2 linked regions of the Homo sapiens genome follow. The protein of the gene in region 1 binds, or shares a complex with, the protein of each later gene. Each region holds a gene or a part of one and is shown in the gene's direction. Other genes may lie near its edges.

Region 1 (15,863 bases):
GAGAAGGGAGGCCCCGATCTGTTGTCAATCAACAAACTTACTGAGAAGGGAGGCCCCGATCTGCTGTCAATCAACAAACTTACTGAGAAGGGAGGCCCCGATCTGTTGTCAATCAACAAACTTACTGAGAAGGGAGGCCCCGATCTGCTGTCAATCAACAAACTTACTGAGAAGGGAGGCCCCGATCTGTTGTCAATCAACAAACTTACTGAGAAGGGAGGCCCCGATCTGCTGTCAATCAACAAACTTACTGAGAAGGGAGGCCCCGATCTGTTGTCAATCAACAAACTTACTGAGAAGGGAGGCCCCGATCTGCTGTCAATCAACAAACTTACTGAGATTCTTTGTGTCTCTCCATTCACCAGTCCTGTGGCCCAGGGCAGGGGCCGCCTCTGTCTTTGGGAAAAGGGGCAAAAGTCCCCACCTTTCCACCCCTGTCCGCGGCTTGCAGTTCTGGTTATTTCCTGGGCGCCGGGCCCCGTGGCTCAGGCCTGTCATCCCAGCACTTTGGGAGGCTGAGGCGGGTGGATCACGAGGTCAGGTGTTCGAGACCAGCCTGAGCAACATAGTGAAACCCCGTCTCTACTAAAATACAAAAAAAAAAAATTAGCCGAGTGTGGTTGTGGGTGCCTGTAATGCCAACTACTCAGGAGGCTGAGGAAGGAGAATCGCTTGAACCCCGGAGGCGGAGATTGCAGTGAGCTGAGATCACACCACTGCACTCCAGCCTGGGTCTCAAAAAAAAAAAAAAAGATTCCTCCCTGGGAAGGGTTAGAGGGAGAGTTTCCTTGTCACTAAGTTTTCTCATAGCTCTCACCCAGTGCAGTGGCGCGATCGCAGCTCACTACAGCCTCCATCTCCTGGGCTCAAGCCACCCTCTCAGCTTGGAATGGGGGGTAGCTGGAACCACAGGTGCCACCACGTGGGTCCACCACGTCTGGCTAATATATATATATACACACACACATACATATATTATAAATAATAAATATATATTTTATTTAAATAAAATATATAATATTTATAATTATTTTATAATTATAATAATATTTATATAATTATAAATATCATTTATAATTATAATATTTATTATTTTATAAAATAATAAATATAAAATATATAAAAATATTTTTATAAAATAATAAAAATATATATATACACACATATATATATATTTTTTGAGACAAGTCTCGCTCTGTCGCCCAGGCTGGAGCGCAGTGGCACAATCTCAGCTCACTGCAACCTCCGCCTCCCAGGTTCAAGCGATTCTCCTGCCTCAGCCTCCCAGGTAGCTGGGACTACAGGCGCCCGCCACCACGCCTGGCTAATTTTTGGTATTGTTAGTAGAGACGGGGTTTAACCATGTTAGCCAGGATGGTCTTGATCTCCTGACCTTTTGATTGGCCCACCTCAGCCTCCCAAAATGCTGGGATTATAGGCGTGAGCCACCGCACCTGGCAATTTTTTTTTATTATTTTTGTAGACATGGGGCTTTGCCACATTGCCCAGGCTGGTCTTGAATGCCTGGCCTCAAGTGATCCTCCTGCCTCGCCCTCCCAAAGTGCTGGGCTTACAAGCATGAGCCACCGCGCCCGGCTGTAGTTTTTTTGTTAACTGAGCACCTACTGCTTCCTGCACTCAAGCCACATCCAGGGACAACCTCCAACGCCCTGAGCCTTGGTGACGGCTCCCACTCTACAGATGGGGAAACCGAGGCTTGCCTTGGGGAGCAGAGTGTGGGGTGGGTATCCTGCCCTGCAGGATCCCAGAACCACAGTGGAACCTGAGATGGGGAAACTGAGGCCCGGAGAGGGGAGGGTCATCATCACTGCCCCGTGTGACGCGCTGACGATCTGTCCCCACCGCCACAGCTCAACGGGTCGGCCACCATCAACGCCAACGTGCAGGTGGCCCAGCTGCCGGCTCAGGGACGCCGCCTGGGCAACGGGGTGCAGTGCCTGGCCATGGGCTGGGGCCTTCTGGGCAGGAACCGTGGGATCGCCAGCGTCCTGCAGGAGCTCAACGTGACGGTGGTGACGTCCCTCTGCCGTCGCAGCAACGTCTGCACTCTCGTGAGGGGCCGGCAGGCCGGCGTCTGTTTCGTACGTGCCCTGGGTGTCCCTCTGCTCCCCACCCGCTCCCAGCCCGGACTGCAGCAACAGGCACCGTGGCTAGACCCTAGGAGGGACTTCCCAACCCTGACAGGCGGCGGGCAGGTGGGCAGGGCCTCGCAGTCCAGCTTCCCCACCTTGTCTGCCTCCACAGGGGGACTCCGGCAGCCCCTTGGTCTGCAACGGGCTAATCCACGGAATTGCCTCCTTCGTCCGGGGAGGCTGCGCCTCAGGGCTCTACCCCGATGCCTTTGCCCCGGTGGCACAGTTTGTAAACTGGATCGACTCTATCATCCAACGCTCCGAGGACAACCCCTGTCCCCACCCCCGGGACCCGGACCCGGCCAGCAGGACCCACTGAGAAGGGCTGCCCGGGTCACCTCAGCTGCCCACACCCACACTCTCCAGCATCTGGCACAATAAACATTCTCTGTTTTGTAGAATGTGTTTGATGCTCCTTGGCTGTGTGATTGGGTGTTGAAAATGGTCAGTAGGTCGGGCGTGGTGGCTCACACCTGTAATCCCAGCACTTTGGGAGGTTGAGGCAGGCGGATCACTTGAGCTCAGGAGTTCAAGACCAGCCTGGGCAACATGGCAAAACCCCCGCTCCATTAAAAAAAAATAAATAAATAAAATAAAATAAAATAAAATGGTCCAAGCCTGGCCCAGTGGCTTACGCCTGCAATCCCAGCACTTTGGGAGGCCGAGGCTGGCAGATCACCTGAGGTCGGGAGTTCAAGACTAGTCTGCCAACGTGGTGAAACCCCATCTCTACTATAAATACAAAAAAAATTAGCTTGGCGTCGTGGCGCGTGGGAGGCTGAGGCAGGAGAATCGCTTGAACCTGCGAGGCGAAGGCTGTAGTGAGCCGAGATTACGCCACTGCACTCCAGCCTGGGCAACACAGAGAGACTCCGTCTCAAAAAAAAAAAAAAAAAAAAAAAATACCGGTGCGGTGGCTCGTGCCTGTAATCCCAGCTCTTTGGGAGGCCCAGGCAGGCGGATCATCTGAGGTCTAAAGTTCGAGACCAGCCTGACCAACATGGAGAAACCCCATATCTACTAAAAATACAAAATTAGCCGGGCGTGGTGGTGCATGCCTGTAATCCCAGCTACTCGGGAAGCCTGAGGCAGGAGAATCACCTGAATTCTGGAAGGTGGAGGTTGCAGTGAGCCAAGATCGCTCCATTGCACTCCAGCCTGGGCAACAAGAGCGAAACTCCATCTCAAAAATAAATAAATAAATAAATAAATAAATAAATAAATAAATAAATAAATATAAATAATAATGATAATAATAATAATAAACAACAAACTAGAATCCAGAGTCTCTTGGGCATCTCTGGAGTAAGCCACCACCAGGGGGCAGCACAGCCAGGGCAATGGAGCAGAAGTGACTTCCCCACATTGTGTTTTTTTCTTTTTTGTTTTTAGATGGAGTCTCGCTCTGTCGCCCAGGCTGGAGTGCAGTGGCGCGATCTCGGCTCACTGCAAGCTCCGCCTCCCGGGTTCACGCCATTCTCCTGCCTCAGCCTCCCGAGTAGCTGGGACTACAGGCGCCCGCCACCACGCCCGGCTCATTTTTTGTATTTTTAGTAGAGACGGGGTTTCACCGTGTTAGCCAGGATGGTCTCGATCTCCTGAACTCGTGATCCGCCCGCCTTGACCTCCCAAAGTGCTGGGATTACAGGCGTAGCCACCACGCCCAGCCCTGTTGTTATATCATTTTCTATTCTCTGTGCGTATGAAATAATCCACAGGGGGCCAGGCATGGTGGCTCATGCCTGTAATCCCAGCACTTTGGGAGGCCGAGGTGGGCGGATCACCTGAGGTCAGAGGTTCGAGACCAGCCTGGCCAACATGGCAAAACCCTGTCTCTACTAAAAATACAAAAAGTTAGCCCAGTGTGGTTGCTCATGCGTGTAATCCCAGCTACTCGGGAAGCTGAGGCAGTAGAATCGCTTGAACCCGGGAGGTGGAGGTCGCAGTGAGCCGAGATTGTGCCACTGCACTCCAGCCTGGACGACAGAGCAAGACTCTGTCGCAAAAAAAAAAAAAAAGCAAGAAAGAAAGAAAAAAAGAAGGAAAGAGAAAGAAAGAAAGAAAAAGAAAGGGAAAGAAAGAGAAAAACAGAGAAAGGAAGGAAGGAAATGAGGCTAGGCGTGGTGGCTCACACCTGTAATCTCAGCACTTTGGGAGGCCGAGGCAGGCGGATCACGAGGTCGGGAGATCGAGACCATCCTGGCTAACACGGTGAAACCCATCTCTACTAAAAATACAAAAAATTATCCGGGCGTGGTGGCGGACGCCTGTAGTCCCAGCTACTCCGGAGGCTGAGGCAGGAGAATGGTGTGAACCCGGGAGGCGGAGCTTGCAGTGAGCTGAGATCGCGCCACTGCACTCCAGCCTGGGCGACAGAGCGAGACTCCGTCTCAAAAAAAAAAAAAAAAAGGAAAGAAAAGAAAGAAATGATCCATGGTGAAGAGAAAAGCCGGGGGAACCTCGTGTGCTGCTCCCCCTGGGGACAATGTCTGAGGTCCTCCCCACAAGGTATCCCCATCCTTCTGGTCCCCGCACCATGGATTAATGCAACGTGAATCCCGCTGGCCCCTGTGGGGCAGATGTGAAAAATGGAGCTACACCATGAGCAGGCCTGCAGTCCCAGCACTTCTGGAGGCTGAGGTGGGAGGATCACTTGAGCCCCGGAGGTCGAGGAGGCTGCAGTGAGCTATGATTGCACCGCTGCACTCGAGCCTGGATGAAAGAGCAAGACCCTGTCTGTAATAAAACAAAAACAACACACACAAATCCCCACCTCACAAAAGGCCCTATGGCCCAGATTCTGAGAAGTATTTTATTTTAATTTTTTTGTAGAGATGGGGTCTCGCCGTCTTCCCCAAGCTGGCCTTGAATTCCTGGGCTCAAGAGATGCTCCTATCTGGGTCTCTCAATGTGCCGGGATGGTAGGTGGGAGCCACTGTGCCCGGCCAGCCCTGACTCTGTTCATCAGAACCTGCCCTCAGTGAACAGTTTGGGAGGGGGCGTGTGATCCAGGCTCCACCAACCCAAGGCACCCTTGAGACTTGGCTGGAGTGAGGAAGAATTTTAGGAGGGGCCCACTGAGCCACTGGGTTGAGTGTGGGGTCCCTGGAAACACACCAGGGGAGGCTGGTGAGGAAAGAAGCCATCAGAGAAGAAAGGAGAAGCCAGAAGCAGACACTGGACATTGTTCAGGCACCTGGATCAAGCCACACCTGAAGGCGGACATCCCTGAACTTTCCATATAACTTTCATGATTCAGGCTCCACCCAGTTTGTCTGGGTTTTCCTGTCCCTTGTAGCCAGTCTTCCCAGCTGCCTCTGCCTTGGCCTTTCCAACTTTCTATTCGTCAGGGTGTCAAGCCCCAGAGGCCACAGGGACAGAGACAAAGGTGTCAAGTGACCTTCCTACCCCCAACAGACCTTCTCTCTAATATAGAGGAGGAAAAGAAGGGAGGGTAGCAGGACAAGAAAGTGGGTTGTTTACACGCTGTGGCCTCCAGCTAGGATTGTGAAACACCCTGGGGGACTCTGGGTGTGGTGAAGTTGGGGCCGGGGTGGGTGCAGCCCCCCTCTCTGCCTCCTGCCCATCTGAGGGACTGCCCCCCACCAGGGCCAGCAGGCTGTCAGGCTCACAGAGGCCCGAGGGTCTCCCAGCGACTTGTCGACTCTGGTGTGAGTCTGGCAGGAGGTAACCCAGTCCCGGGGAGGGCGGAGGCTGGGCGGGCGAGTTCCCCTTTCCCCAGCTGGGCCGCTGCCCACCCGGGGAGCGGCCCGCCCCCTCCACCCTCATAAAAGCACCCCCAGGGCCCTGCCTGGGTCAGTGTCTCAGCCACAGCGGCTTCACCATGCACAGCTGGGAGCGCCTGGCAGTTCTGGTCCTCCTAGGAGCGGCCGCCTGCGGTGAGGAGGCCTGGGCCTGGGGTGAGGGACAGGGCTGTGTAGGGGCGTGGTGCTCCCTTCCGTCACACGGACGGTCCTCCAGCCCCTCCAGGTGGGCAGGAAGGGGGTGTCTCTCCTCACTAATGGAAGGCTCTGAACGCTGAAAAATTCTAGAAAATTCAGATTGGAAATCGGAACTTTCTGGAGTCAGCTTTTCTTGCAGACAGAGTCTGAACGTCTGCGTGGAAAACTTCATCTGCGTGGCTGACTGGGCTGGCCCAGGCACTGGCTGGGTCAGCCCCATTTCTCTTATGTCCAACTGGAAGGCACTGCGCCCAGGGTAGGGCGCTGGGATCTGCCCCCGGTCCCCAGCCCACTGTGGGTTCTGTACTCTGGGGCATTCCCGCCCGAGGGTATCTGAGTTTGCAACGCTGAGGGGCCCCAAGACGGAAACGGGATTCTTTTTTTTCTTTCTTTTTTTTTTTGATAGGGAGTCTCGCTCTGTCGTCCAGGCTGGAGTGCAGTGGTGCGATCTCGGCTCACTGCAAACTCCGACTCCCGGGTTCAAGCGATTCTCCTGCCTCAGCCTTCCGAATAGCTGAGATTATAGGCCACGCCGACTAAATTTTGTATTTTTTTTTAAAGTAGAGACGGGGTTTCACCATATTGGCCAGGCTGGTCTTGAACTCCTGACCTCATGATCTGCACCCCCCCCTCCCCCCCCGCCCCCGCGCGGCTTCACAAAGTGCTGGGATTACAGGCGTGAGCCACCGCGCCCAGAGATGGGATTCTTGCGGGGAGCGGCCTGGGGGGTGAGAGCTGGGATCCCGTCAGGCAGCCTCGCCCGGGGGAGGAGTCCACCCCGCGGCCCTCACGCGCCCGCCCACCCACAGCGGCGCCGCCCCGTGGTCGGATCCTGGGCGGCAGAGAGGCCGAGGCGCACGCGCGGCCCTACATGGCGTCGGTGCAGCTGAACGGCGCGCACCTGTGCGGCGGCGTCCTGGTGGCGGAGCAGTGGGTGCTGAGCGCGGCGCACTGCCTGGAGGACGCGTGAGTGCCCGCGCCGCGCGGGGGAAGAGCCCGGGTGCGGTGGGGGGAGTCGGCTGGCACCGACCGCGGACTCCGTCCGGTCCCCAGGGCCGACGGGAAGGTGCAGGTTCTCCTGGGCGCGCACTCCCTGTCGCAGCCGGAGCCCTCCAAGCGCCTGTACGACGTGCTCCGCGCAGTGCCCCACCCGGACAGCCAGCCCGACACCATCGACCACGACCTCCTGCTGCTACAGGTCGGCCCCGTGTAGCGCAGTCCCTCCTGCGGCGCTGGGATCCCCGGCCCACCCTCACTCCACCCCGCCTACACCGCGCCCCGGGTCCAGCCTCGACCTCTCCTGCTGCATGGGGACCCCGCCCCACAACCCCCACACCCTCACCCCGGGTCTAGCCTCGACCTCTCTTGCTGCGCTCGGAGCCCCCCCACCCTCTGCACCCTCACCCCGGGTCCAGCCTCGAACTCTCCTGCTGCATGGGGACCCCGCCCCACAACCCCCACACCCTCACCCCGGGTCTAGCCTCGACCTCTCTTGCTGCGCTCGGAGCCCCCCCACCCCCTGCACCCTCACCCCGGGTCCAGCCTCGACCTCTCCTGCTGCATGGGGACCCCGCCCTACAACCCCCGCACCCTCACCCCGGGTCTAGCCTCGACCTCTGCGGCTGCACTGGGAGCCCCCCACCCCCCGCTCCCCCTGCATCCCCATCCCGGTTCCAGCCTCGACCTTTGCAGCTGCACTGGTGAGCCTCGCACCCACCCCATCCCCACCTGCACCCCCACCCAGGGTCTAGCCTAAATCTCTCCTGCTGCACTGAGACCCACGCCCCTGCCCTGATGCCCACCTCCCCCGTCCCGTCTCCCCGAGCCTAGCGGCATTCTCCCCAGCCTCGCACCCCCGCACCCCAACCCTGACGTCCGCCTCCACCCTCAGCTGTCGGAGAAGGCCACACTGGGCCCTGCTGTGCGCCCCCTGCCCTGGCAGCGCGTGGACCGCGACGTGGCACCGGGAACTCTCTGCGACGTGGCCGGCTGGGGCATAGTCAACCACGCGGGCCGCCGCCCGGACAGCCTGCAGCACGTGCTCTTGCCAGTGCTGGACCGCGCCACCTGCAACCGGCGCACGCACCACGACGGCGCCATCACCGAGCGCTTGATGTGCGCGGAGAGCAATCGCCGGGACAGCTGCAAGGTGAGCCTTCAGGCCTGGGAGGAGACGCGGGGCCTGCAGGCCCCGGGAAGGGCCTGCAGAGGGAGCGCGAAGCGGGGGGCAAGTAGGAACAGGGCCCAGGGAAGGGGCGGGGCGCGTAGGGGGCGGGAACTGGAAGATGGGCGGAGCATGAGGGTGGCCCGTGGGCGGGGCCTGTATGAGGGGGCGGGGCATGTGGGTAGGGTGGGGCCTTGGGGGCGAGGCCTGGAGAAGGTACGGGGCCTCTGGAGAGGGTGGGGCTGAAGAAGGGTCAGGGCGGGCAGAAAGGGCAGGAACGGGTGGGATGTGGAAGGACCTGTGGGTTAGGGTGGGAATAGGGGGCGGGGCTCGAGGAGGGGGCGGAGTCCAGTAATAGCGGGACTGCAAGGGGGCGAGGCCAGGAAGAGGGTTGGGGCATGAGGGGCAGGGCATGGAGGAAGGGGCGGTACCTGTGGGGAGGGTGGGGCTGGAGAAGGGTCAGGGCGGGCAAAAGGGCAGGTGGCAGAGAAAGGGTGGGAGGTATAGGGGGCGGGCACGTGGAGGAAGGGGCGGGGCATGGGGACGGGGCGGGGCAGGTGGAAGGGGCGGGAACCTCTGAAGGGGCAGGGCTGGTGCGGAGCGGGATCCCTGCTGTGGCAGGGAAGAGAAGGGGTCCTGAGCAGGGCAGAGGTTTAAGACCAGCCGAGGCTTGCATGGTAGCCGGGGCCAAGATTGGGTGGGGCTTAAGGGAGGGGCGTGGCCTGAGGTGAGTGGGGACTGAGCAGAGCAGGTGGCCACTGAGACGCGTTAGGGCAGAAGTGGGATCCACGGCAAGTCAAAGCTTGGAAGAGCAGGAATGAGGTGTGGGACCCCCATACTGGAAAGGGCTTGGAGCGGGGTGGGGTCGGGGGAACACGTGGTGAGGTTGAGGCCAGAGGGGGTGTGGCCAGGAGCTGGGGGCGGGCCTAGAGGGGCGTGGCTTGTGGTTGTGGCCTAGGCGATAGGCGTGGCGCGGGGCTATTGACTAGTGAAGACCAAATTAACACGGGAGGGATGAGCGAGCATTGTGGGGCGGGAGCGGCAGCCAGGTGAGGGGGTCTAACACGTGAGGCCGGGGTGGGCGCGGGCCGCCCCTCACGGCCCCGTCCTGTTCCGGCAGGGTGACTCCGGGGGCCCGCTGGTGTGCGGGGGCGTGCTCGAGGGCGTGGTCACCTCGGGCTCGCGCGTTTGCGGCAACCGCAAGAAGCCCGGGATCTACACCCGCGTGGCGAGCTATGCGGCCTGGATCGACAGCGTCCTGGCCTAGGGTGCCGGGGCCTGAAGGTCAGGGTCACCCAAGCAACAAAGTCCCGAGCAATGAAGTCATCCACTCCTGCATCTGGTTGGTCTTTATTGAGCACCTACTATATGCAGAAGGGGAGGCCGAGGTGGGAGGATCATTGGATCTCAGGAGTTCGAGATCAGCATGGGCCACGTAGCGCGACTCCATCTCTACAAATAAATAAAAAATTAGCTGGGCAATTGGCGGGCATGGAGGTGGGTGCTTGTAGTTCCAGCTACTCAGGAGGCTGAGGTGGGAGGATGACTTGAACGCAGGAGGCTGAGGCTGCAGTGAGTTGTGATTGCACCACTGCCCTCCAGCCTGGGCAACAGAGTGAAACCTTGTCTCTCTCTACAAAAAAAAAAAAAAAATTCTGCGTGGTGGCTCACGCCTGTAATCCCAGCACTTTGGGAGGCCGAGGCGGGCGGATCATTTGAGGTCAGGAGTTCCTGATCAGCCTGACCAACATGGTGAAACCCCGTGTCTACTAAAAATACAAAAAAAAATTAGCTGAGCGTGGTGGTGGGCACCTGTAGCCCCAGCTACTCAGGAGGCTGAGGCAGGAGGATAGCTTGAACCCGGGAGGCGGAGGTTGCAGTGAGCTGAGATCGCACCACTGTACTCCGACCTGGGTGACAGAGCGAGACTCTGTCTCAAAACAAAAACAGAAACATTAAAAAAAGAGGAACGCGGGAAGCTACAGATAAAAGCGCAAGAACGGAGAATACAGCGAAGTTCCGGGTCCAGCGCTTCCGTGGGGCTGACGCGGCCACACGGCGGCGCCCTTGCCACACACACACACACACACGCGCGAAGGCCCGCCAGGCATGGGTGTCCCCTCCTGGTCTGGCTCATACCGTTTCCCTTTGCTTACCAAGGGGAATGTGAGCGTCTTCTGTGTGCAAGGCTGTGGGCTGAGACTCAGGTGCACAGAAACCCTTCGAGGCCGTGTTCCTATGACCCATATCCCATAAGGGGAAACTGAGGCTCACAGGGACTGTGCGACTCTCCTGACCTTACACAGAAGCTCCAGGACACAGCCTGGACTGGAGCCCAGAGCCACGGAGCCTGCCTTCACAAACCACCCTGGGTGCGGCCAGACCCACACCAGGACGACGAGCAGCGGCACCTGCTTGCTGGAGGCCCTGGACCTCAGGTCACCCTTCTTGGCAAGGCCAGGGAGGACACCTGAGGCCCTGTGCCCTTTCTCCCACCTGGTGGAGGGGCAGCCAGGCGCTATCGTAGAAAAAGACTGATGGGCCAGGCGCGGTGGCTCATGCCTGTAATCCCAGCACTTTGGGAGGCCGAGGCGGGCAGATCACAAGGTCAGGAGATTGAGACCATCCTGGCCAACACGGTGAAATCCCATCTCCACTAAAAATACAAAAAAATTAGCCGGGCGTGGTGGCGGATGCCTGTAGTCCCAGCTACTTGGGAGGCTGAGGCAGGAGAATAGCTTGAATCCAGGAGGTGAAGCTTGCAGTGAGCCGAGATAGCACCACTGCATTTCAACCTGGGCAACAGAAGGAGACTCCATCTCAAAAAGAAAGAAAAAAAAAAAAAAGAGAAAAGAAAAAGTGACTGATGGGCCGGGTGCCGGTGGCTCACGCCTGTCATCCCAGCACTTTGGGAGGCTGAGGCGGGCAGATCATGAGGTCAGGAGATCGAGACCATCCTGGCTAACACGGTGAAACCCCGTCTCTACTAAAAATACAAAAAATTAGCCGGGCGTGGTGGCAGGCACCTGTAGTCCCAGCTGCTCGGGACGCTGAGGCAGAATGGCGTGAACCCGGGAGGTGGAGGTTGCAGTGAGTGGAGATCACACCACTACACTGCAGCCTGGGTGACAGAGCGAGATTCCATCTCAAAAAAAAAAAAAAGACTGATGATCTGAGAGGCAGGTCCGCTGGGAAAAGGGGGGATGGATTGATGAACACTGTGCTTGGGTGTTTTTGGGGCTATGGAACACTCACCTAGGAATCACACTGACGTGCAAGCACGTATTGAGCACTTACTGTGTGCAGAGCCCTGGGCCGGGCACGGTAAGACACATCTAAGCCCCAGCCCTGCTCTTAGGAATTTGGTAAATACTGCACTGCACGGAAGGGGGCCCATTCAGCCGTCTGGTGACCACCACGAAGTTGGAGCTCACTGTGTGAATTTCACGTTTTTGTTTTTGTTGTTTTTGAGACGGAGTCTCTCTCGTCGCCCAGGCTGGAGTGCAATGGCACGATCTCGGCTCACTGCAACCTCTGCCTGATGGTTCAAGCGATTCTCCTGCCTCAGCCTCCCGAGTAGCTGGGATTACAGGCATGCGCCACCACGCCCGGCTAATTTTGCATTTTTAGTAGAGACGGGGTTTCTCCATGTTGGTCAGGCTGGTCTCGAACTTCCGACCTCAGGTGATCCGCCCCCCCTCGGCCTCCCAAAGTGCTGGAGTTACAGGCATGAGCCACCTCGCCTGGCCACCCAGCTAATTTTTAAGATTTTTGTAGAGATGAGGTCTCGCCATGTTGCCCCAGGTTGGTCTTGAACTCCCAGGCTCAAGTGATCCTCCTGCCTGGGTCTCTTATGGTGCTGGTGCGTGAGCTGCTGCATCCGGCCTGCCTGGGCATCTTTGCATCCTTTGGTCCGCAGGAGCTACGGAGGGTTCCGGAGGAGGAGACGGTTTAGGAGGCGGTGGAACAGGAGTGGTGGGGAGGATGCAGGACGGGAACATCTGGGCACCACATAGTCCTCTGAGTTGAGACGCGGTCCAGTCTCCGCACTGCCATATATATGGCCTCTGTTTCCTCATCTGTATCTCGGGGCCCCAACGTCCCTGGCTCTTAGGGAGATTTTGAGGACCCCTGGGGGAACCGCGAGGCGACGAGGACCTTGGGAAGCCGGGGGCGGGGACAGCAGAGCTTCAGGGCCACAGGCCGCCTCTCAGCACCCCCATGCCCTGCCTGCCTCGCCCACCCCACTGTACCTGAGTGAGGTAGAAGCTCATGACAGCCAGCTTGTGACAGTGGTCTGACAGACCCCCCCCCCACCTAGTGACGCAAAGCCCACCCCGGCTCAAGTGGTCAGGAACTGATGGGACCAGGGGGCATCCTGTCCCCACTCCACGCGTCCAGACCTCAGCCAGGTCACCAGAACCACGGGGGGCTGGGGTCAGCTAGAGGCATTTTCACTTCTGAGTCGGGCACTGGGTGACTCTGATCTCCCGGCCCCTGAAGCTGCCCACGAGCCTGCGTCCCACAACGCATGGGCACCCTCACCAGTGCTCCCATCTCCTCCCCGTCCACCCGCCGCAGGCCTGCACCCCTCGCCAGCGCTCCCATCTCCTCCCCGTCCACCCGCCGCGGGCCTGCACCCCTCGCCAGCGCTCCCATGTCCTCCCCGTCCACCCGCCGCGGGCCTGCACCCCTCGCCAGCGCTCCCATGTCCTCCCCGTCCACCCGCCGCGGGCCTGCACCCCTCGCCAGCGCTCCCATCTCCTCCCCGTCCACCCGCCGCGGGCCTGCACCCCTCACCAGCGCTCCCATGTCCTCCCCGTCCACCCGCCGCGGGCCCGCACCCCTCACCAGCGCTCCCATCTCCTCTCCGTCCGCCCACTGCGGGCCCGCACCCCTCGCCAGCGCTCCCATCTCCTCTCCGTCCACCCACTGCGGGCCCGCACCCCTCGCCAGCGCTCCCATCTCCTCTCCGTCCACCCACTGCGGGCCCGCACCCCTCGCCAGCGCTCCTGCACTCTGGTCTCTGCAGAGCCACATGGAAACGCCGCAGACACCCGGACAAAAGCCGCCCCCAACCACCCGCCAGGGCCCACTGTGTTCTGTCTGTCACTTGCTTTGGACACCCCTGGCATCCACAAGGCGCCCCACACATGCTGAGTGACTGGGGGAGATGGAGGCCCACACACTCCTGAGCTCGAGAGGAGGTCGCAGGAGTGGGGCCGGGAGCTGCCCTAGGGTCTGTCCCTCAGAGGATGGCCAGGGGGACGGTGAGACGGGGCTCGGTGTCCCAGCAGAGCTTGGAGTCTGCGGCCGAGGACGGGGGCCTTAAAGTGGGGGGGCCTTAAAGTGGGGGGGCCTTAAAGTGGGAGTGCCTCAGCCAGGTGACGGGGTGCCTGAGCTCCCGCCTCGCGAGCCGGCACTGGGCACTCACCCCACCCTCGCTGCCCTCCCCAGAGCTGCAGAAAGGAGGAGTCCGTCGGCACACAGCAGGGGCACCACTGTGCTGGGAAGGCCTGCTGGAGACGGAAGGCGGGACCCCTGGGGACAGCAACAGAAACGGCAGAAACTTGGCCCAGGGGCTAAGCAACCTCCAGCAGAGAGCAGCTGGAGAAACATAACAGGGACAGAGTCAGGCAGAGACACAGAAACAGCATGCAGAGACACAGAGACCATACACAGAGAAGTGCAGAGATACCAGAGACACGCAGAAACAAGGAGAGCACGCAGAGACAGTATAGAGACAGGCAGACAACACACTGAAAGGCAGATGCCTGGACAGAAGCCACCCTGACGATGGCCGCCCCATCCCATCCACCGGCCTGCTGTGTCCTGTCCCCACTGCTCACTTTGGATACCCCCAGACTCGGCATCCACTAGGTGCCCCATAAATGCTGAAGGATTTAAAGACAGGCCAAGAGGACACAGGCTCCCGGCACCAAATCGAGGTCGTGGGTGGGGTCGGGGGCACCGACGGCAGGGACGCGGGCCTGGGCGCAGAGGGCGTTTATTGGACCTGTCCTTCCCAGCCGCTGCTTGTCCAGGTTCAGCGCTCTCCGCGGGTGAGGCAAGGAAACCGAGGAGACGCCCGAGCCGGGTCACCACAAGGTCCGCCTGGACCCCCGGCCGTCACGGACGGTCCTCTGGATGCAGATGGTCCAGGGATCTGGGGGTCCTGGGAGAGTGGTGTGTGGACTGCGGGCCCAGCTGGACAAAGGCAGGGGCTTCCTCAGAAGCTCTGCTGGTCACGCAGGCGTCCGGCCCACGGCCTTCAACAGCCCTGCAGGGCGGGCTGAGGTTAACCGCGCCGAGGAGAGTCCAGGGCGAGCGGTGGCTCTTGCAGCAGCCGGGCTCAGGGGCAGCTGAGGGGTAGCTGAGGAGTAGCTGAGGGGCAGCTGGGCTCAGGGGTAGCTGAGGGGCACCCGCCACCAGAGCCCACCGCACAGGCAGTTCTTGATCCAGCGCTGCTCCCACTGCTTCACCGCCGTGGTTCTGTTGGGCGACTTGAGCATGGTGACACAGCCGCACCTGCGGGGAGGCAGGCACTGAGCGGGTTCCCACTTCCAGGCGGGCCTCCCTTACGCCTGCCCCACTTTTGCTTCCAGGCAGGTCTCCCTCTGCTCGCCGTCCCTCACGCCTGCTCCCCACGTCCCCACCTGCCACAGGGCCTCTGCCCATGCTTCTCCTCCCCCCAGCAATGCTGCTCCCTGAACTAGCCCCGCCACACCAAGTTAACTGCTCCACATCCTGGGATCCTGGCTCCAACACTCCCTCTGGGACGTGCTCCCTCCACCACCCTTGACCGTCTGGAGCGCTGGGTGGGGGCTAGAATCAGCTGAGCCATCCCCAGCGGCACATCTCTGGGAGTCAGCGGTTCCGGGGGCCCCTCACCTGGTGCAGGCCTTGCATTCCTCCGTGGGGCAAGCGCCAAGGTGCAGCCTCCGCAGGTGGTCGATCTTGGGCTGGCCTGGGGCCCTGGCGGGAGAGGGGAGAACGTGAGGGAGGCCTGGGCACCACGAGGCCAGGTTCCGGCAGGGGCATCTGTCCACAGGCGGGGGTGGAGGGAATGGCCGGCCTCACACCATCTGCCAGGTGGGCCCAGATGTCTGTGAACAGTGAGGTGGGAGGTGCGGGACCACCTGAGACAGGCCCAGTAAAGGGGGCGGGACCCCCCACACGGAGGAGGGTTGGTCTCCCAGGTGCCTGGGGAGCTTGAGGCTTAGAGACCCAGTAAAGGGGACGGGGCCCACACAGGGACGAGGGTCGGTCCGCCACGTGCCCGGGGAGCCTGAGGTGCAGGGAAGGTGCTTGTGACGCTCCCATTTGAGGCTGGACAGAAGCAGGTACATGGGGACTTCCACACCACCTCTGCCCAGACACCCGGCCTGGAGGTGCCGGGACCTCTGAACGACAAGATTCTGGTGGCAAAAGCTGCCCTCGGTGGTGGGTGGGGGACCTGGGTCTGGGTGGGGGTGGGCCGGCTTATTCTGCTCTCATTAAATATCTGAAATTTTCCCAGTTTACAAGCCTCTGACGTAACCGTCCTCTCTTTCCATCAAGTCTTTTCCTGAAACCCAAACCCTC
Region 2 (13,864 bases), on another chromosome or scaffold:
TTTGAGGTGGAGTCTCGCACTGTCACCCAGGCTTGAGTGCAGTGGCACGATCTTGGCTCACTGCAACCTCTGCCTCCAGGGTTCAGGCAATTCTCCTGCCTCAGCTTCCCGAGTAGCTGAGATTTCGGGCACCTGCCACCATGCCTGGCTAATTTTTTATATTTTTAGTTGAGATGGGGTTTCACTATGTTGGTCAGGCTGGTCTCGTGATCCTGACTTTGTGATCCGCCCACCTCAGCCTCCCAAAGTGCTGGGATTACAGGCGTGAACCACCTTGCCCGGCCCTATGCAATGAACATTTCTAAGGTGGAAAGGCTTTTAAAGTTTGAACAAGCAATGATGCCACATCTCTATCTGAATGGCAAATGTCTGAGTTTATCAAAACAATCGATAAATTGCATTTCCAGGCCGGGTGCAGTGGCTCATGCCTGTAGTAATCCCAGCACTTTGGGAGGCTGAGATGGGCGGATCACTTGAGGTCAGGAAACCAGCTTGGCCAACATGGTGAAACCCCATCTCTACTAAAAATACAAAAAATTAGCTGGGCATGGTGGCTGGCACCTGTAATCCCAGCTACTTGGGAGACTGAGGCATGAGAATCACTTGAACTGGGGAGGTGGAGGTTGCAGTCAGCCAAGATCACGCCACTATACTCTAGCCTGGGTGGCAGAGCGAGACTCTCTCAAAAAAAAAAAAAAAATTGCATTTCCAATAATTGGGGGAATAGAGTGATTCCCTACCCCTAGGTGGTAGGTGGGAAGTTTCTAAGAGAGTCCTTCCTTTTGGCATATTCCAGATCATGAAAATGGAACTGGGACTAACACCTATGCGGCCTTAAACAGTGTCTATCTCATGATGAACAACCAAATGCGACTCCTCGGCATGGAAACGATGGCCTGGCAGGAAATCCGACATGCCATCATCCTTCTGACAGATGGTGGGTATCATGGTCTCTGAGTGTGTCTGGAATAGTGGAAGGGGCACCAATATGGGGTCAGAAGCCCTGAATTCTGATTCTCCCTCTGCCTGCCACTTTGGGCCCCAGTTTTGTTTTTGTTTTTAGAGATGGGGCCTTGCTATGTTGCCCAGCTGATCTCAAACTCCTGGCTTCAAGCAATCCTCCTGCCTCAGCCTCCCAAAGTGCTGGGATTACAGGCATGAGCCACCACACCTGGCCCAGTTTCTTATTTATAAAATAGGGCCAGTGTGGTGGCTTATGCCTGTAGTCCCAGCACTTTGGGAGGCCAAAGCGGGTGGATCACTTGAGGTTAGGAGTTTGAGATCAGACTGGCTAACATGGTGAAACCCCGTCTCTACTAAAAATACAAAACCATTAGCTGGGTGTGGTGGCAGGCGCCTGTAATCCCAGCTACTTGGGAGGCTGAGGCAGGAGAATTGCTTGAACCTGGGAGGCAGAGGTTGCAGTGAGCCAAGATCATGCCACTGCACTCCAGCCTGGGTGACAGACCAAGATCCTACCTTGTCTCAAAATAAAATAAATAAATAAATAGAATTAGTGTTGATGATGATGACCGTAACCACAATGACAGCAATGATGATCATGATGGCTGTCCTCCTTTCCTTACACAATTTTTATGGAAAGCTATTTAAGTTGCCTGTGTGAAAGTGCTCTGTGTTAGCTCTTGTTACCATCTGGGAGGTAACTTGGAGATAGATGAGGAAACGTGGCTCTTGAGCAGGAATGTCGAAGGGCACGGATGCAAGGAACAGTCTGTAGTGGATCTGGCCTTGTCATTTGCCTCTTGCTATTGTCCAAATTACACAGTTCCTCCAGGACTTAGTATATAAAATGAGGATACCCACTCTACCTGGGGTTTCATGAGAATTAAATGAGTTAAAGTATAGGAAGCACCTGGCCTGGTGCCTGGAATGTAGAACATTTCAGTAAAAGTGTGTATATATATATATGTATGTATATATATATATATGTATACATACATATATATATATATATATTTATTTTTTTGAGACAGGGTCTCACTCTATTGCCCAGGCTGGACTACAGTGGTGCGATCTCGGCTCACTGCAACCTCTGCCTCCCAGGCTGAAGCAATTCTCGTGCCTCAGCCTCCAGAGTAGCTGGGACTACAGGCATGTGTCACCATGCCTGGCTAATTTTTATTTTTATTTTTTGAGATGGAGTTTCACTCTTGTTGCCCAGGCTGGAGTGCAATGGCGCGATTTCGGCTCACCGCAACCTCCGCCTCCCAGGTTCAAGCGATTCTCCTGCCTCCTGAGTAGCTGGGATTACAGGCATGTGCCACCACACCCGGCTAATTTTGTATATTTAGTAGAGGTGCGGTTTCTCCATGTTGGTCAAGCTGGTCTCAAACTCCCAACCTCAGGTGATCCACCTGCCTTGGCCTCCCAAAGTGCTGGGATTACAGGCATGAGCCACCATGCCCGGCCACACCTGGCTAATTTTTTGTGGTTTTAGTAGAGACAGGGTTTCACCATGTTGCCCAGGCTGGTCTGGAACTCCTGAGCTCAGGCAATCCGCCTTCTTCGGTCTCCCAAAGTGCTAGGATTACAGGTGTGAGCCACCATGCCCAGCCTAAAAGTATATTTTGAAGCTCTCACAGGCAATGTAAATGTTGAGGTTCCCAGGCTAAATGCTTTCCTACTCTTCCAGGGCCTGGGGAAATCCTGATATTACCTAGAAGAATTCTTTATTCTCTTTGTTCTAGGAAAGTCCAATATGGGTGGCTCTCCCAAGACAGCTGTTGACCATATCAGAGAGATCCTGAACATCAACCAGAAGAGGAATGACTATCTGGGTGAGCCCCTGCCACTGCCACCACATTTGTTCTGCTCCTGCAGAGGTCATGAGATCTTCAGCCAGGGATCCCAGCATCTTAGCTATGGTCCAGAGCCACATGGTTTTATTTCTGCGTTGTTCTGTACAAAGGCAACTCATGTTGAAGAGCCTGGGGTCAAACTACTGCCCATGGTCTCAACCTTACCTTCTTTTTTTTTTTTTTTTTTTTTAAGACAGTGTCTCACTGACACTCAGAGTATATTCCTGGAAAGATGTCCACCCATGCCGGCCCAGAAGCTGGTCCAGAAAGTAACGATGTCCACCATGCCACCATGAAGTGCAGTGGTGCAATCATAGCTTACTGCAGCCTCAAATTCCTGGTTTCAAGTGATCCCCTCAACTCAGCTTCCCAAAGTGGTAGGATTACAGGTATGAGCCACTATGCTCAGCCCGTCTTCACAAATTTTTTAAAATTAATTTTTAAATTTTTTTTGAGACAGAATCTTGCCGTGTTGCCCAGGCTGGAGTGCAGTGACTCGATCTCAACTCACTGCAACCTCCACGTCCTGGCTTCAAATGATTCTCCTGCCTCAGCCTCCAGAGTAGCTGGGATTACAGGTGTGTGCCACCATGCCCGGCTCATTTTTGCATTTTTAATAGAGACAGAGTTTCACCATGTTGGCAGTCTGGTGTCAAACCCCTGGCCTCAAGTGATCCGCCTGCCTTGGTCTCCCAAGGTGCTGGGATTACAGATAGGCGTGAGCCACTGTGCCTGGCCAATTTTTAATTTTTTAATTATTATTTTTAATCAACAGCTTTAGACAGAGAACCTTGGTTTCATCTTCAGTGGGCTGTGGCCATGGGCAGTTTCTTCATCTGCAAAAGGGGAGTAGTACTAGGACCCAGCTCACAAGCTGACAGGGGAAGATGCTCAGACAAACACTGCCTGCCTGGCATAGAAAAATGCCCAGCATATGTTAGCCATGACCACGACCGTCGTCGTTATCATCATCATCATCATCATAGCATCTCATGTTTCAGGAAACTTTCCAGGAAGAAGGGACCTCGATTCCCTCTGGGGAATGTCCCTGGTGGTTGCTCTTTCAGCAGCACAGCTGGCTAACTAAGGCTTTGGCAGTTGCAGCCTCTAAAGGAAAAATTCCTCAGGTTCAGACTAAACACAAATTGCACTGACCTTTGATCAGAAAGTAATTTCAGAGAGAGAGATGCTCAGACAGGGAGGGCAGCTGGTTTTGAGCCCCAACCTTTCATCTTCCCCTTAGCTCCTCTCCTTTCCATTCACACTGCCCCCTCCCCCATCACCTGGCCCTCGGGGGTAAGCTGATTCCTCTTTAAAACTCTGGCCCAAGGAAGACAAAATTTAAAGCCCACTCCCTTCCTCCTTAGCATCACTGGACCAAGGTCAAATGCTACAAAAACATTTTATTGAAAATAAGCAGGAAACCAAACGAAAATAGTCAAAGAAAACGCACAAGGCACGATCGTTGTCTAGCTCCAACTGTAACTGTTTCTATCTGGGCCATTGCCAGATTGCCTCCTGGCTGAAGATCTCTTGGTCCACCTAAGCACCTTGCTTTTTACACACAACGCGGGGCTCTCTGAGAACAAAAATGGGCCACAAGGGGTGCAAAGGCTGGGAGAGGAGTAGACTCTGTGGTCTGTCTGAGGGCAGTTCTGACTGGCACCACAGTCGGAGGACAGGCGCGGCCTGTTGTGTGGGTCCAGGGCCTCCAGTGGGAAAACGTGGCTTTAGGCCCTTCTCCCAGATGCTACCTTTTACAGAGGAAGACCAGATCTGAGGTTTAGTTTCCATGTTGTGTTCTGAGTTCTTTCTATTCATTCAGTCATTTAAAAGTACTTACCAAACTACCACAAACCTGGGTGGCTTAGAACACAGAATTTCTTTTTCTTACAGTTCTGGAGGTTAGAAGTCTGAAATCAAGGTGTTGGCAGGGCCGTGCTTCCTCAGAAGGCTCTTGGGAAGAATTCTTTCCTGCCTTTTCCGGCTGCCGGCAGCTCCAACCTTGGCTTGCGGCAGCATAAACCCATTCTCTGCCTCTGTCTTCAACTCGCCTTCTTTTCTGTGTGTGCCTCTGTGTCATTACATGCTGTTCTCTTATATAGATAGGAGACCCACTACCTGTGTCTTTGTGTCCAAATTCCTTTCTTCTTTTTCTGTTCATTTGTTTGAGACAGAGTCTCGCTCTGTCACCCAGAAGCCCAGGCTGCAGTGCAGTGGCGGGATCCCGGCTCACTGTAACCTCTGCCTCCTGGGTTCAGGTGATTCTCGTGCCTCAGTCTCCCAAGAAGCTGGGATTACAGGCATGTGCCACCATGCCCGGCAAATTTTTGTATTTTTAGTAGAGACATGGTCTCGCCATGTTGGCTAGGCTGGTCTTAAACTCCTGGCCTCAAGGCGATCTGCCTGCCTTCGCCTCAAAAAAACTGCCGGGATTACAGGCATGAGTCACCACCATGCCCAGCCAGTTCACTTTTTTTTTTTTTTTTTTTTTTGAGATGGAGTCTTGCTCTGTTGCCCAGGCTGGAGTGCAGTGGTGCAATCTCGGCTCACTGCAACATCCGCCTCCCGGTTCAAGCGATTCTCCTGCCTCAGCCTCCTGAGTAGCTGGGATTACAGGTGTGTGCCAGCATGTCTGGCTAATTTTTGTATTTTTAGTAGAGACAGGGTTTCACCATGTTGGTCAGGCTGGTCTTGAATTCCTGACCTCGTGATCTGCCCGCCTCAGCCTCCCAGAGTGCTGGGATTACAGGTGTGAGCCACCGTGCCCGGCTCACCTCTTCTTTTTTTTTTTTTGAGACGGGGTTTTGCTCTTGTTGCCCAGGCTGGAGTGCAATGGCGCGATCTTGGCTCACCACAACCACCGCCTCCTGGTGATTACAGGTGTGAGCCACCACGCCTGGCTCTGGCTTACCTCTTCTTATAAGGACCTCAGTCATTGGATTAGAGCTCACCCTAATCTAGTATGACTTAATCTTAACTTGATTACATCTGCAAAGACCCTTTTTCCAAATAAAGTCACAGATACTGGGGATTAGGACTCGAACACATCTTTCTGGGGGACACAATTCCACCATTACAGGGAATAAACAGGATAAGAAAACCATAGAACCCAGCAGGTGGTAGGTGACACAAGCTAAGGGGTGTTGCCATGTTGCCCAGGCTGGTCTCAAACTTCTGGCTTCAAGGGATCCTCCCACCTTGCCTCCCAAAGTGGGGATGAAAGTTTGTCTGGGGCATTGCAGTTTTAGACAGGAAGACCAGGGAAGGCCTCACTGAGAAGGTGACATTTGAGCCAAGACTTAAAAAGGTACGAAAGTGAGCCATGTGGAAGTCTGGGGGGGAGGAGTGAACTAGGCAGAGGCACAGCTGGGCAAAGGGCCTGAGGTGTGACCATGCCTATGGATTTGAGGAACTTCAAAGAGGCTGTGTGCTGCAGGAGAGTGAAGGGCAGGGAGTGGCAGGAAATGAAGGCAGACAGGTAGCAGTGGGGAGGACGCAGGGGTCCAGCTCATGTAGGTCTTGATTGGACACAGTGAGTTTCAGATGACAGCCTCCTGTCTCATGGGGTAGCCCCAAAGCCACAGGAGTCTGGTGATTTCCCTCTTCCCCACCAGACATCTATGCCATCGGGGTGGGCAAGCTGGATGTGGACTGGAGAGAACTGAATGAGCTAGGGTCCAAGAAGGATGGTGAGAGGCATGCCTTCATTCTGCAGGACACAAAGGCTCTGCACCAGGTCTTTGAACATATGCTGGGTGAGTGAGCTTTGCCCTCCTTGGTGTGGGGAGGATGGTGAGGAGCCCGCCAGAGGCCCGTGTTGGGAACCTGGACACAGTGCCCCTCACTTGCCTCCTTCCCCATCTGATCCTCACACCCACAGATGTCTCCAAGCTCACAGACACCATCTGCGGGGTGGGGAACATGTCAGCAAACGCCTCTGACCAGGAGAGGACACCCTGGCATGTCACTATTAAGGTACCAGGAAGGAGGGGCAGGGCTTGGATTCCAGAGGTAAAAGCGGCCATGGGCCAGACATACTGCAATCTCTGAAAATCACCTGTTCCCCTGCAGCCCAAGAGCCAAGAGACCTGCCGGGGGGCCCTCATCTCCGACCAATGGGTCCTGACAGCAGCTCATTGCTTCCGCGATGGCAACGACCACTCCCTGTGGAGGGTCAATGTGGGTAAGGCAGGGGATGCACCAGCCTCCTGATCCTGAAGCCACAGATCCTACCACCTCACCCAGCCTCTGGCCCCTGCAGGAGCCCTGGTCTAGCCTAATCTAGTGTATCATTTCCAGGAGACCCCAAATCCCAGTGGGGCAAAGAATTCCTTATTGAGAAGGCGGTGATCTCCCCAGGGTTTGATGTCTTTGCCAAAAAGAACCAGGGAATCCTGGAGTTCTATGGTGATGACATAGCTCTGCTGAAGCTGGCCCAGAAAGTAAAGATGTCCACCCATGCCAGGTGCCTGGAGTCTGGGATGGGAGGGTGCCCTGCAGGGAAGAGTGCTCTGGAGATCCCTGGAAGAGATACTGGGGACAGGCTGGTGTGACCCTTGCTCTTCTCCCCAGGCCCATCTGCCTTCCCTGCACGATGGAGGCCAATCTGGCTCTGCGGAGACCTCAAGGCAGCACCTGTAGGGACCATGGTGAGTGCTGGGACTTATGGTGCTTGAGAGCTGGGGCCGGGGTTTGGGGGTGATAACAAGGACTAGGCTGCAGTCCCCAAGCCAGGAACCTGGATTCTGGGTAAAAGGACCAGCACCAACATCCCCTTCTCTTGACTATAGAGAATGAACTGCTGAACAAACAGAGTGTTCCTGCTCATTTTGTCGCCTTGAATGGGAGCAAACTGAACATTAACCTTAAGATGGGAGTGGAGGTGAGGGTCTCAGGTTGGGGATGCTGGGATCCCCCTGTGACAGCTCCCAGAATGTCTCTCTTCCTTCTCCAGGTCTGGCTGCTTTCTCTCTCTGACGCGGGTCACCCCTCCTCCCAAGCCTCACAAACCTGCTAGGTGTCCCTGGGTCTGCTTATTCTTTTTTTGTTGTTATTGAGATGGAGTCTTGCTCTGTCTCCCAGGCTGGAGTGCAGTGGCACGACCTCAGCTCACTGCAACTTCTGCCTCCTGGGTTCAAGCGATTCTCCTACTTCAGCCTCCCGAGTAGCTGAGATTACAGGTGCCCACCACCACACCAGCTAATTTTTGTATTTTTAGTAGAGACGGGATTTCGCCATGTTGGCCAGGATGGTCTTGAACTCCTGACCTCAAGTGATCTGCCTGCCTCAACCTCCCAAAGTGCTGAGATTACAGGCGTGAGCCACTGCACCCACCCGGGTCTGCTTATTCTACCCTTCTCTCTGGTTCCACCCCTGCTGCAGTGGACAAGCTGTGCCGAGGTTGTCTCCCAAGAAAAAACCATGTTCCCCAACTTGACAGATGTCAGGGAGGTGGTGACAGACCAGTTCCTATGCAGTGGGACCCAGGAGGATGAGAGTCCCTGCAAGGGTGAGTCCCTCACCATGCCTGGATTCCCAAGGGGAAGGCCACCTGTGTCTCTGTGGCCAGCATGCATGCCAGAACACCAGTCCACTGCCCTAGATGACACTGTCTCCTGTCACCCTTTGCTGGCAGGAGAATCTGGGGGAGCAGTTTTCCTTGAGCGGAGATTCAGGTTTTTTCAGGTGAGAAGGTAGAAGCTTGCAGGACCCAGGGGTTACAGGATCTCAGCCTTGTTGGGGGGATGAGGGAGGCCTTTGAGGGATCTAGGGAGGTTGGGGCTTACAGTTGGGGCTGTGGCAGCCTCCCAGCCAGTTCTCTCCTTTTCTCCAGGTGGGTCTGGTGAGCTGGGGTCTTTACAACCCCTGCCTTGGCTCTGCTGACAAAAACTCCCGCAAAAGGGCCCCTCGTAGCAAGGTCCCGCCGCCACGAGACTTTCACATCAATCTCTTCCGCATGCAGCCCTGGCTGAGGCAGCACCTGGGGGATGTCCTGAATTTTTTACCCCTCTAGCCATGGCCACTGAGCCCTCTGCTGCCCTGCCAGAATCTGCCGCCCCTCCATCTTCTACCTCTGAATGGCCACCCTTAGACCCTGTGATCCATCCTCTCTCCTAGCTGAGTAAATCCGGGTCTCTAGGATGCCAGAGGCAGCGCACACAAGCTGGGAAATCCTCAGGGCTCCTACCAGCAGGACTGCCTCGCTGCCCCACCTCCCGCTCCTTGGCCTGTCCCCAGATTCCTTCCCTGGTTGACTTGACTCATGCTTGTTTCACTTTCACATGGAATTTCCCAGTTATGAAATTAATAAAAATCAATGGTTTCCACATCTCTCAGTGCCTCTATCTGGAGGCCAGGTAGGGCTGGCCTTGGGGGAGGGGGAGGCCAGAATGACTCCAAGAGCTACAGGAAGGCAGGTCAGAGACCCCACTGGACAAACAGTGGCTGGACTCTGCACCATAACACACAATCAACAGGGGAGTGAGCTGGATCCTTATTTCTGGTCCCTAAGTGGGTGGTTTGGGCTTACTGGGGAGGAGCTAAGGCCGGAGAGGAGGTACTGAAGGGGAGAGTCCTGGACCTTTGGCAGCAAAGGGTGGGACTTCTGCAGTTTCTGTTTCCTTGACTGGCAGCTCAGCGGGGCCCTCCCGCTTGGATGTTCCGGGAAAGTGATGTGGGTAGGACAGGCGGGGCGAGCCGCAGGTGCCAGAACACAGATTGTATAAAAGGCTGGGGGCTGGTGGGGAGCAGGGGAAGGGAATGTGACCAGGTCTAGGTCTGGAGTTTCAGCTTGGACACTGAGCCAAGCAGACAAGCAAAGCAAGCCAGGACACACCATCCTGCCCCAGGCCCAGCTTCTCTCCTGCCTTCCAACGCCATGGGGAGCAATCTCAGCCCCCAACTCTGCCTGATGCCCTTTATCTTGGGCCTCTTGTCTGGAGGTAAGCGAGGGTAACCTTCCCTTCCTGCTGTCTCCAGCATCCCTCCTTGGCCTTTTGGGGCCAGGCTTCATCAGCCTTTCTCTTCAGGTGTGACCACCACTCCATGGTCTTTGGCCCGGCCCCAGGGATCCTGCTCTCTGGAGGGGGTAGAGATCAAAGGCGGCTCCTTCCGACTTCTCCAAGAGGGCCAGGCACTGGAGTACGTGTGTCCTTCTGGCTTCTACCCGTACCCTGTGCAGACACGTACCTGCAGATCTACGGGGTCCTGGAGCACCCTGAAGACTCAAGACCAAAAGACTGTCAGGAAGGCAGAGTGCAGAGGTTTGAGGGCAATGAGTGTGGGCAGTGGCCTAAGGCAGAAACAGGGCAGGCGGCAGCAAGGTCAGGACTAGGATGAGACTAGGCAGGGTGACAAGGTGGGCTGACCGGGAGTAGGAGCAGTTTTAGGGTGGCAGGCGGAAAGGGGGCAAGAAAAAGCGGAGTTAACCCTTACTAAGCATTTACCCTGGGCTTCCAGGCAGCCCTGGAAGTCAAGAGAACACTCAGAAATGGGGAGGGAGAAGCAGTGGAAATCCATATGGGTTGAGGAGTAGGTAAGATGCTGCTTCTGCGGGACTGGGAATGCGCTGTTTCTCAGTGACATGGTCTCCGAGACCAGGAGGGATACACCTAAGGCAGCCTTTCCCTCTTGATGACTTCTACTTGTCCCCCCTTCTCAAAGCAATCCACTGTCCAAGACCACACGACTTCGAGAACGGGGAATACTGGCCCCGGTCTCCCTACTACAATGTGAGTGATGAGATCTCTTTCCACTGCTATGACGGTTACACTCTCCGGGGCTCTGCCAATCGCACCTGCCAAGTGAATGGCCGATGGAGTGGGCAGACAGCGATCTGTGACAACGGAGGTGAGAAGCATCCCCTCCCCCTACATTGCTGTCTCCCTGACGGCGCCCAGCCCGAGGAGTGGGCACTCGGCTCCGGACACTGTAACTCTTGCTCTCTACCTTGCTCACGGGGCCTCAGGCTTCAGTGCTTACCTCGATGTCTCATACCTCTGCAGCGGGGTACTGCTCCAACCCGGGCATCCCCATTGGCACAAGGAAGGTGGGCAGCCAGTACCGCCTTGAAGACAGCGTCACCTACCACTGCAGCCGGGGGCTTACCCTGCGTGGCTCCCAGCGGCGAACGTGTCAGGAAGGTGGCTCTTGGAGCGGGACGGAGCCTTCCTGCCAAGGTGACCTTTGACCTGTACCCCCAGGTCAGATCCTGGTCTTCCATCCTACTGTCTTCTCTCCCCACCTCAACCCTGCTCTTTCCTCACTTTGTTTAAACCTCCCTGTACAACTATCTCACTTCTGAGCCTTTTATACCCTGGAAACCCATGATCCCCCGTCTCTTTGGTCACTGTATCCCTGACACTCCCAGACATTTGACCTCATTTCTGACTCTCCCAGACTCCTTCATGTACGACACCCCTCAAGAGGTGGCCGAAGCTTTCCTGTCTTCCCTGACAGAGACCATAGAAGGAGTCGATGCTGAGGATGGGCACGGCCCAGGTTTGAAGACAGAGAAGGGAGGCAGGGCAGGGAACTGGGGGAAAATGGAGAAGGGACAGAACTGTTAATGCTGGAGCCTGAGCCACTCTCCTGGCACCCAGGGGAACAACAGAAGCGGAAGATCGTCCTGGACCCTTCAGGCTCCATGAACATCTACCTGGTGCTAGATGGATCAGACAGCATTGGGGCCAGCAACTTCACAGGAGCCAAAAAGTGTCTAGTCAACTTAATTGAGAAGGTGGAATCCTCCTATCCCTGAACTCGGGGGAATGGAATCTCGCTGATCTTCCAGGACTAGCTCCCTGATCATTCCAGCCCCTCTGAACAACAGGGCCCCAGGAAAATCTCCAGGTCCTATTCTGTCCTCCTTCCCTTTTACTTGAAGCAGTTTCTTGACTGGTAATTCCTCCATGAACCTCAGCCCTTGAGCCTCTTACTGAGAGCCTCCCTGTCCCAGCAAAGTCGCTGAAATCTCCCAATCACAGTATTCTATTTTCAATGCCATGGCGCCTTGTTCTCCTCACCCACAGGTGGCAAGTTATGGTGTGAAGCCAAGATATGGTCTAGTGACATATGCCACATACCCCAAAATTTGGGTCAAAGTGTCTGAAGCAGACAGCAGTAATGCAGACTGGGTCACGAAGCAGCTCAATGAAATCAATTATGAAGGTCAGAGGTTAGGGAATGGTGGGAGGTTCACTTTGGGGTCAGGAGGTTCAGGGTGGAGGGGGTCATGAGACTACCTTGAGGGCGACAGGGAGGACCACTTTGTAGTCAAAAGTTGAACAGCAGGATCGTTGGGCAATGGAGGTTAGTGGGAACCTGTTGGGGGCTGGAAGGGCCACTTTGTGGTCAAAGGGAAGTCCGTGTAATGATGATTAACTTAAAAAGTTGAAAGATGTGGGATTTCAGTTGCAGATTGGTCTCTGGGGTTAAAAGATGGCTTGGAAGACCAGGTGAGGTGATGGTCTCTTCCCTCTCCACAGACCACAAGTTGAAGTCAGGGACTAACACCAAGAAGGCCCTCCAGGCAGTGTACAGCATGATGAGCTGGCCAGATGACGTCCCTCCTGAAGGCTGGAACCGCACCCGCCATGTCATCATCCTCATGACTGATGGTCAGAAGGGACCTCTCTCCTGTCCCAGCCTCCCCACCTTCTCAGACCAGCATGTGGCCCTTAAGTCCACTTGTAACACTATACCCATGGTTGGGGCCCTGAATGTGACTCATAGCTGGCTGTTCATCTCTCCTGTGACCCTTCATAAGGAATTCTTCCTAAGCCCTGTGATCAACTATCTCTAACCCTTCCTCAACTTGCTCACCCTGCCATGTGTATCCCTGCCTTTAGCCAGTTTATCTTCCTTATCTCCTACCCTCATGGTCCTGTCTCTTCTGCAGGATTGCACAACATGGGCGGGGACCCAATTACTGTCATTGATGAGATCCGGGACTTGCTATACATTGGCAAGGATCGCAAAAACCCAAGGGAGGATTATCTGGGTGAGTAACCTGCCTAGGACCCAGCACCCCACTTCCTCAGGGCTTGGACCCTCATCCTTCCTTTTTATCCCTCAGATGTCTATGTGTTTGGGGTCGGGCCTTTGGTGAACCAAGTGAACATCAATGCTTTGGCTTCCAAGAAAGACAATGAGCAACATGTGTTCAAAGTCAAGGATATGGAAAACCTGGAAGATGTTTTCTACCAAATGATCGGTAGGGAGATACAAGGGAATAAAGAACACAACTCTCCTCAGGTTCCCCTGAAGTAATTCATTCTTCCTCTACACCTGAAGCTCTAGTTGCCTGGAAAGCCTTCTTCATTCCTCCTTCTCTACCTCAGTGTCACTATTCTTGTTTCCTGGCACTGTTCACTTAACCTTAGAATCACAGAGCTCTGAGCACTTCAGAGATCTTTCTATAGTCCTACATTTGACACGTGGAAACAGAAGCCAAAGGAGGTCAAGGGACAGCAAGTTAGCAACAAGGGTGGGCTTGAAAACAGCCAGGCCTCTGACAGCTTGATCCCAAGTTCTTTCCCTTTTCAGTCCACCATAGCAGTTTTCTCCTAACACGAGGAAACAAATACCCGTGGTCTTTCCCTTTCTCCTTTTGGGCCTTTGCTCCCCATAGACTCCTACCCAAAAGGCTGCTGCCATTTGGGAATGAAGTGTTCCGAGTTTTCAGCACATTCTCCTTCTCTGCCAGATGAAAGCCAGTCTCTGAGTCTCTGTGGCATGGTTTGGGAACACAGGAAGGGTACCGATTACCACAAGCAACCATGGCAGGCCAAGATCTCAGTCATTGTAAGCACAGAATCCCAGTAGTGGGGACTTGGGGGAGGTGAGGTCAAGGTGAAATGGGAGTAGGGGAAGGAAAAAATGGCCATAAGAGATGGTGGTTTGTGAAAGTTGAGCTTTCCCTCTCTACTGTTGTGTCCCCAGCGCCCTTCAAAGGGACACGAGAGCTGTATGGGGGCTGTGGTGTCTGAGTACTTTGTGCTGACAGCAGCACATTGTTTCACTGTGGATGACAAGGAACACTC

Evidence for each region.
Region 2: the proteins of CFD (region 1) and CFB are in contact, whole or in part, in a crystal structure (PDB 2XWB), measured with the Homo sapiens proteins. Residues at the interface, in NP_001919.2 of Homo sapiens: Asn157 (codon at 8,118), His158 (codon at 8,121), Ala159 (codon at 8,124), Gly160 (codon at 8,127), Arg161 (codon at 8,130), Arg162 (codon at 8,133), Arg182 (codon at 8,193), Thr183 (codon at 8,196), Asp186 (codon at 8,205), Arg200 (codon at 8,247), Val228, Cys229, Gly230, Asn231, Arg232, Lys233; in NP_001701.2 of Homo sapiens: Glu298 (codon at 11,554), Ala301 (codon at 11,855), Ser302 (codon at 11,858), Ala332 (codon at 11,948), Asp333 (codon at 11,951), Ile469, Asp470, Glu471, Ser472, Glu518, Tyr519, Lys585, Asp758, Glu759, Asp760.

Annotation. Positions count from the first base shown.
Region 1 is NC_000019.10:853,693-869,555, forward strand, and holds CFD (complement factor D isoform 1 preproprotein), read left to right. Parts: upstream 1-5,971; 5' UTR 5,972-5,997; coding exon 5,998-6,052; coding exon of another isoform or gene 6,053-6,073; intron 6,074-6,924; coding exon 6,925-7,081; intron 7,082-7,168; coding exon 7,169-7,313; intron 7,314-8,006; coding exon 8,007-8,264; intron 8,265-9,399; coding exon 9,400-9,546; 3' UTR 9,547-9,949; downstream 9,950-15,863. Other genes in the region: ELANE (neutrophil elastase preproprotein), read left to right, coding at 1,872-2,102, 2,266-2,472; MED16 (mediator of RNA polymerase II transcription subunit 16), read right to left, coding at 14,409-14,559, 14,724-14,807, 15,171-15,254.
Region 2 is NC_000006.12:31,936,523-31,950,386, forward strand, and holds the start of CFB (complement factor B preproprotein), read left to right. Parts: upstream 1-9,572; 5' UTR 9,573-9,699; coding exon 9,700-9,763; intron 9,764-9,850; coding exon 9,851-10,084; intron 10,085-10,484; coding exon 10,485-10,670; intron 10,671-10,825; coding exon 10,826-10,999; intron 11,000-11,219; coding exon 11,220-11,321; intron 11,322-11,422; coding exon 11,423-11,559; intron 11,560-11,851; coding exon 11,852-11,990; intron 11,991-12,307; coding exon 12,308-12,439; intron 12,440-12,720; coding exon 12,721-12,822; intron 12,823-12,897; coding exon 12,898-13,035; intron 13,036-13,527; coding exon 13,528-13,625; intron 13,626-13,763; coding exon 13,764-13,864. Other genes in the region: complement C2 isoform 1 preproprotein, read left to right, coding at 797-937, 2,709-2,798, 6,437-6,577, 6,703-6,797, 6,894-7,005, 7,122-7,287, 7,395-7,471, 7,613-7,704 and 3 more.